Homo sapiens: one gene and its partner. The protein of the gene in region 1 interacts with the protein of each later gene in a pairwise test. Each region holds a gene or a part of one and is shown in the gene's direction. Other genes may lie near its edges.

Region 1 (3,828 bases):
CGTGTAACCTATAAATTGGCACACTCCTGGCTATGCACAGTAGAGAGCTCTTTATACCCACAGAGACCTGTTTAAGAATGCTGACTGCGGTACTGTTTGTGGATGAAAAATTGGAAGCATCTTGAAAAACCATCATTCTAGAGTAGATAAGTTTTATTATTTGGTATATCCAGTATACAGTAGTTAAGTTTATGTGACTACATCTTGAAAAAAGAATATGGAATAAATACTATTGATATAAAATTTTAAAACATACAAAGCAACACTATATGTTGTTTATCAATACGTATTACCTGTTTCTTTGCATATGTATATATATGTGTATACCCATTATAAATAATGGACATTTATATGTATGATACATATGTGTGGGTTTTGGCATGCATATGATGTATGTATATATGCCTGTATCTGTGTATTTGTATTTGTGTCTGTGTAGGTCTATGTATGTATATGTGTGTTTGTGTTTGGAATGTGAAGGCTACACTCCTAGCCTGTGGAGAGTGTTCACCTATGTGATGGAGGAGGGAGAAGAATGGGATAGAAGGGCTTCAACTGAGTCTTTAATGTTTTACATATGTAAATATTCTCATTCAGAAGTGGAAAACGTTAGTGTTAAATCTGGGTAGTGCATATATAGGCTGATTGATATCTTCTGTATTTTTATGGATGTGTGAAACATTTCATATTTGTGGGAGAAAACAGACCTGGACCAACAGGGATCAGGCACGCTGCCATGTGCCAAGTACGCCTTAAATAGATGCAAGAGTCAGCTAGTATCTCTATTTTGCAATCTTTGATTGGTAACTACTTTGGGGAATGTTAGCCTGGACAAACAACATTTGATGAATGGCTGGTTTCTTTTCCTGAATTTTTTATGATAGCATTCTTCATTGCTCCCTAGGTCAGCTGCAATTTGGAACCTCACCTGAGGGGCAATGTATATGTTCAGTACCAGTCGTAAGTATTCTGCTTGTGGATGTCTTCCTGATTTGTCACAGTTTGTTGTTCTGTTTCTGTTGATGTCTGGGATTTTTCCACTGGATATATAACTTTCATGTATTTTATTTCTTATGTTTTTATTTTTATTTTGTTTTTTTCTTTTGAGACGGAGTTTCGCTCTTGTTGCCCAGGCTAGAGTGCAATGGCGTGTTCTCAGCTCACTGCCACCTCCACCTCCCAGGTTCAAGTGATTGTCCTGCCTCAGCCTCCTGAGTAGCTGGGATTACAGGTGCCTGCCACCATGCCCAGCTAATTTTTTGTATTTTTAGTAGAGATGGGGTTTTACTATGATGACCAGGCTGGTCTCGAACTCCTGACCTCAGGTGATCCACCCACCTCGGCCTCCCAAAGTACTGGGATTACAGGCGTGAGCCACTGTGTTTGGCCCAGCTTTCATATATTTTAAAATATTTAAATAAAATTAAAGTTTAAATAAATCTAAATATTTAAAACTTAAATATTAAGAGTTGAAACAGAAATATAGAATGGATGTGAAAATAATATAAGCCGGGCATGGTGGCTCACACCTGTCATCCCAACACTTTTGGAGGCTGAAGTGGGAGGATTGCTTGAGGCCAGGAGTTCAAGACCAGCCTGGTCAACATGGCAAAACCCCATCTCTACTAAAAATACAAAAAATTAGCCAGGCGTGGTGGCAGGCACCTGTAATCCCAGCTACTTGGGAGGCTGAGACAGGAGAATCGCTTCAAGAGAGACCTCATCTCTACAAAAAAATTTAAAAATTGGCCGAATGTGGTGGCATGTGCTGGTAGTCCCAGCTATTTGTGAGGCTGAGGCAGGAGGATCACTTGAGCCCAGGAGGTCGAGGCTGCAGTGAGGTATGACTGTACCACGACACTCTAGCCTGGGGGACAGAGTGAGAGTAAGACTCCATCTCAAAAAGAAAAAAATAATAAATTTATATTTCATTCTTTATATATTTACATAGTTTTGAATGTTTTACAATATGGTTATATTATTACTCATAATTTTAATAATTAAAATACAAACTAATAAGGGATAACTAGAATAGAGAACATAAAAGCATTTATAGTGAAAGAGCCGGAGATTGAAGCCCAAAATCATCTTAGTGTGCATTTGACCAGCTAAGAGAGCAATTAATGTATCATTTCTTCTTATCTTGCTGTTTGCCTAGGCCATACCATGGCTAATGGGTTAAATTAACCAGTGTAATAAGAAGAACAGCAATCCTATCTGAGAAAGAATAGGCCCTAATAATGGAAAACACTTCTGCATTTTTAATGGTCCAATCTTTTGGATTAAGACGGTTTCATTCAAGCCAATTTCCATGCATTGAAACCTCTCCGAGGGTTAGTAAAAAGGGTTCCTGAATAAATTGGGAGCTTTGGGAGCTTGACCATTTTAATGACTCTTCCCTAGGTACAAAATCAGTGAACTTGGTGGTCCTACAATAAATTAATAACGGGGTTAATTAATAGTAGAGCTAATCTACATATTAGGAAGTTACTGTAAAGCATATCATTTGATTTTTGGTTTAAAGGGAAGAAGAATGCCAAGCAGCCCTTTCTCTGTTTAACGGACGATGGTATGCAGGACGACAGCTGCAGTGTGAATTCTGCCCCGTGACCCGGTGGAAAATGGCGATTTGTGGTAAAAGACAAAGTGATGATTTTTTTCCTCAATTGTTCCACTGCTATATAAAGGGATATTCTTTGGGGGAAACCCAGTATTTTCAAGTGGTGAGGCATAGCTTTTTGCCTCACACAGTAGATGAGCAGAGAACTTTATATAAAGAACACCACAGTTTAGATCTGTAACCGACCTCAATGAGTCACTTGATAGATGAAGTGACTGAGGTCACAACGTATTGGTGACAGAGGTGGGGCTAGAATTCCAGTCTTCCAATCTTCAGTCCTGGGCTCTGTGTCTGACAAATCAGGAAGCCTGAGGAGTTTACGTCTGTGGAAGCCCCATTTCCCTTGTTGCAGTTTCAGAGGTATTTTATATTCATTGGCTCACTTCACTTGAGCTGTTTGTTTGTTTCTTTCTTTCCATCTTTATCCCTAATGAATCTTCTGTCATGACCACCTACGTTACCTTGCCCATAGCATTTCCTGCCTTACTTGGAATAATACATCCTTCTGTGCACTAGAGACTAATTGTAGGCTTGGGATCAGTTAAACATGAATGCAGTCAGACTGACATCGGACAGTGGCAACCCAATCAGGAAATGATCCAGTCTTGTGCAGAATAGCCAGCAGTTTTGAAGGCCTAGTTATGTTCTGATTTCTCTCAGTGGACTGTTCCCTAGGTGAAAAGAGATGAGCTCTAAATGCCTCTGGGGAGCACTTATCTTACCGTTTACTTGTGTTTCTTTGCTGTATACATGCCTGCCTAACGCAAAGTCAGAATCTTTGGCAAGCTTGTCTTCCTTGGATTCTGTCATTCTGAAACCATTTATGAAGGGAAAAGAAAGATTTTAGGATTCCTGGCTAAGGGAAACCAGAAGAACCATTACACTTTAAAGGCTCGGGGGATGGAAGAGGTGGAATTGTTCGCTCCATAAAGGCAGTTACTTTTGTCAGTTCCTGGGAATCCAGTGTGAGTTCAGTGAGGAGCTTCTGAGTGTGACCTTGACTCCTCCAAAGCAGGGGACTATTTCATTAAAAAAAAAAAAACACTTTATTTTCCTTATTGACTAAAGACACTGAGCATCTTTTCATTATTGGCCATTTGTATGTCTTCTTTGGAGAGATGTCTGTTTGGATCCTTTGCCTATTTTCTAACTAGGCTCTTTGTCTTTTTATTATTGAGTTGTAAGAGTTCTTGGTATATTCTCCATAC
Region 2 (2,864 bases), on another chromosome or scaffold:
CAAGTAATTCTTGGAACAGGGAAAAAAATGAATTTGCCAGGTCAGGAGTTCACCTGCCTTTGTCAGAGTTGAACCCAACCACTCTTGACCTCGACTCACTCCCTTAGGGTTAAGAAAGCCCAAACACATTCCTGAGCACAGAGCAAACACTCCCATGTCACTGAAAAGAAACAAAAGAATGCTAAAAAGTGCTCAGACCTGATCACATTTTTTCCAATATTTTTTCCTTTTTTTTTTTTTTTTTGAGACAGGGTCTTGCTCTATCACCTAGGCTGGAGTGCATGTTTTTGAGACAGGGTCTTGCTCTATCACCTAGGCTGGAGTGCATGATCATGGCTCACTATAGCCTTGAACTCCTGGGCTCAAGCCATCCTCAGCCTCCCAAGTTGCGAGGACTACAGGTGTGCACCACAACGTCCCAGCTACTTTTTAAATTTTTAGTAGAAACGAGGTCTCACTATGGTGCCCAGACTGGTCTCGAACTCCGGAGCTCAAGTGATCTTCCTGCTTTGGCCTCCCAAAGTGTTAGAATTACAGGCATGAGCCACCTCGCCTGGCTGGTTTTTGCCTTTCTTATAGACCCTGGGCATGTAAGCATTTATTAGTTTGCATTTTTGAAACAGTAATTTCAATATTTTAGTGCCAATGTCAGGCCGCTTAAACACTGTATTACATATCTTCATCTGTCTGGTGGAACTATTGGTGTGATCCTAGAGAACTGAGTCCTATTCTGCCATTCATTTAAAGTGTTTTAAACTCTAATCTCTCTACTTAATGCACAGTAGTCAGATTATTCTCTTAAACATTTGCCTAGTAGAGGTTAAAATAGTTTAATCCTTATGAAGATGGAATAACTTCAAACTCACATTGTGGCACTTAGATCTTCCACCAAGACTTCATCCGTGAAATCCACACCTCCCTGTTGGGTTCCCAATTACATTCCAAATTTACATTTCTTTTGAGAATCTCTGCATACTCCAGCTCTGTCCTGTTGATCCTATTCTAGAAGTGCTTAATGCAGCAAGACACAGAAAGTTAAACGCAAATTGCTGCAAAATTCACCCTCAGTGGAGGACTAGAAACACAACATGTCCAATTTAAAGCTCAGTTCACAAGCAGTTCAATTCTGCTGGCATCAGAAAAGGAGATTCTAATTAAACATTCTTAGGGAAGGACATCAAATGAGGTTAATGGGAAACGTTACCAGATTAAAAGCAGTTTTTTGACAAAGTAACAGATTTGGAAATTCTGACTCTCTGAAAGCCTTGATTTGAACCTCAAACTTGATTTCACCATGAGAAGTGGGGATCAAGGGCCTGCGCAGTTCTTTTCCTAAATCGATTCGGTGCTCCCCACCCCGACGCAGGCACAGGTCCGCAACCAGATAGGGAGATGCCTGAATTTCAGGCTACCTTTGACAAAGCTTTCTTCCTCCCTCCCTCCCTTTGCACGCTGCATCCCACGCTGCCTGCTTAAAGCGCCCTCATGTGTCTACAGATGGTAAAACGTTTATTTCTCAACAGACATTCCAGTGATAGCATCCAATGACCTATGTAACGGCACCCTTTTTTGCTGTACGCGTTTTTTGAGATGGAGTCTCGCTCTGTCGCCCAGGCTGGAGTGCAGTGGCGCGGTCTCGGCTCACTGCAAGCTCCGCCTCCCGGGTTCACGCCATTCTCCTGCCTCAGCCTCCCGAGTAGCTGGGACTACAGGCACCCGCCACCACACCTGGCTAATTTTTTGTATTTTTAGTAGATACAGGGTTTCACCGTGTTAGCCAGGATGGTTTTGATCTCCTGACCTCGTGATCCACCCCCCTCGGCCTCCCAAAGTGCTGGGATTACAGGGGTGAGCCACTGCGCCCGGCCCCAGTCACTTGTTCTTAAGTTTCTTAAGCAAACTATAAAATAGCAAAAGACCAAAAAAAAAGGAAAAAAAGCAGTTCGCCTAATACATTGTTCCAGCATTTCCTTGAAAGTACTGAGCCATCTCAATTGCTCTGATTTTGTGAGAAAATTATGAAGAGTTGCAAAGTCCCAGTGATTCTCTTGTTACTTAGCTAAGAATTTGAAATGTAATTTAAATACTATTCTTTACAATCCATTATAAGGATTTTAAAATCTTTTTGCTTCTTTAATAAATTCTAACAAAGTTTTGTGTTTATTCTTAGTTTCAAAGAACCAGGTCCCCAGTCCTGGGAGGCTGCTCAGCTGGCCAAGCCAGTGTTTAATCTCATTATAGCAGCCCTGCAGGCAAAGGCACTCTGGTCTGAATCTAGTCTATCTGAGAAATACACAATGCTGCTCTCATCATTCAAGGTTCTTACACATTAATGATTAATTATCAGAAGTCCCTTTGTCTGAGAACTCTGTTTTTTCCCACAGCTCAGAGGAGCTTCTGGGGCTGCCACTAAGTTCCAGTTTCATAGGAAGAATTGCCACAAACAACTTTTGCAGAATAATGAGTATATTCCAAAGCAAATTTGTCTGAGAAATTATGTAGACTTCTGGCAAAAAAAAAAAAAAAAAAAAAAAAATGGTTCAGAAGCATGACTGTGACAATGGCCAAAGAACTTCTACAGAAAATAGCAGTGTAAAAAGTGCTCCCTGTCAAAAAAAAAAAAAAGTATCCTTTTTTTTTTCTTTTTTTTTTTTTTGTGTGTGTGTGTGTGAGATAGGATTTTATTCTGTAACCCAGGCTGGAGTGCAGTGGTGCAATCACAGCTCACTGCAGCCTCCAGCTCCTGGGCTCAAGCGATTCTCCAGCCTCAGCCTCCCAAGTAGCCGGGACTAGAGATGCATACCACCGCACCTGACTAATTTTTGTATTTTCAGTAGAGATGGGGTTTCGCCATGGTGTCCAGG

What was found.
Region 2: the proteins of ZRSR2 (region 1) and SPATS2L interact in a two-hybrid assay, tested with the Homo sapiens proteins (one large-scale study listed by BioGRID).

Annotation. Positions count from the first base shown.
Region 1 is NC_000023.11:15,817,683-15,821,510, forward strand, and holds part of ZRSR2 (U2 small nuclear ribonucleoprotein auxiliary factor 35 kDa subunit-related protein 2), read left to right. Parts: intron 1-904; coding exon 905-960; intron 961-2,524; coding exon 2,525-2,634; intron 2,635-3,828. UniProt on the Homo sapiens protein: Pre-mRNA-binding protein required for splicing of both U2- and U12-type introns. Selectively interacts with the 3'-splice site of U2- and U12-type pre-mRNAs and promotes different steps in U2 and U12 intron splicing.
Region 2 is NC_000002.12:200,480,112-200,482,975, forward strand, and holds the end of SPATS2L (SPATS2-like protein), read left to right. Parts: 3' UTR 1-2,153; downstream 2,154-2,864.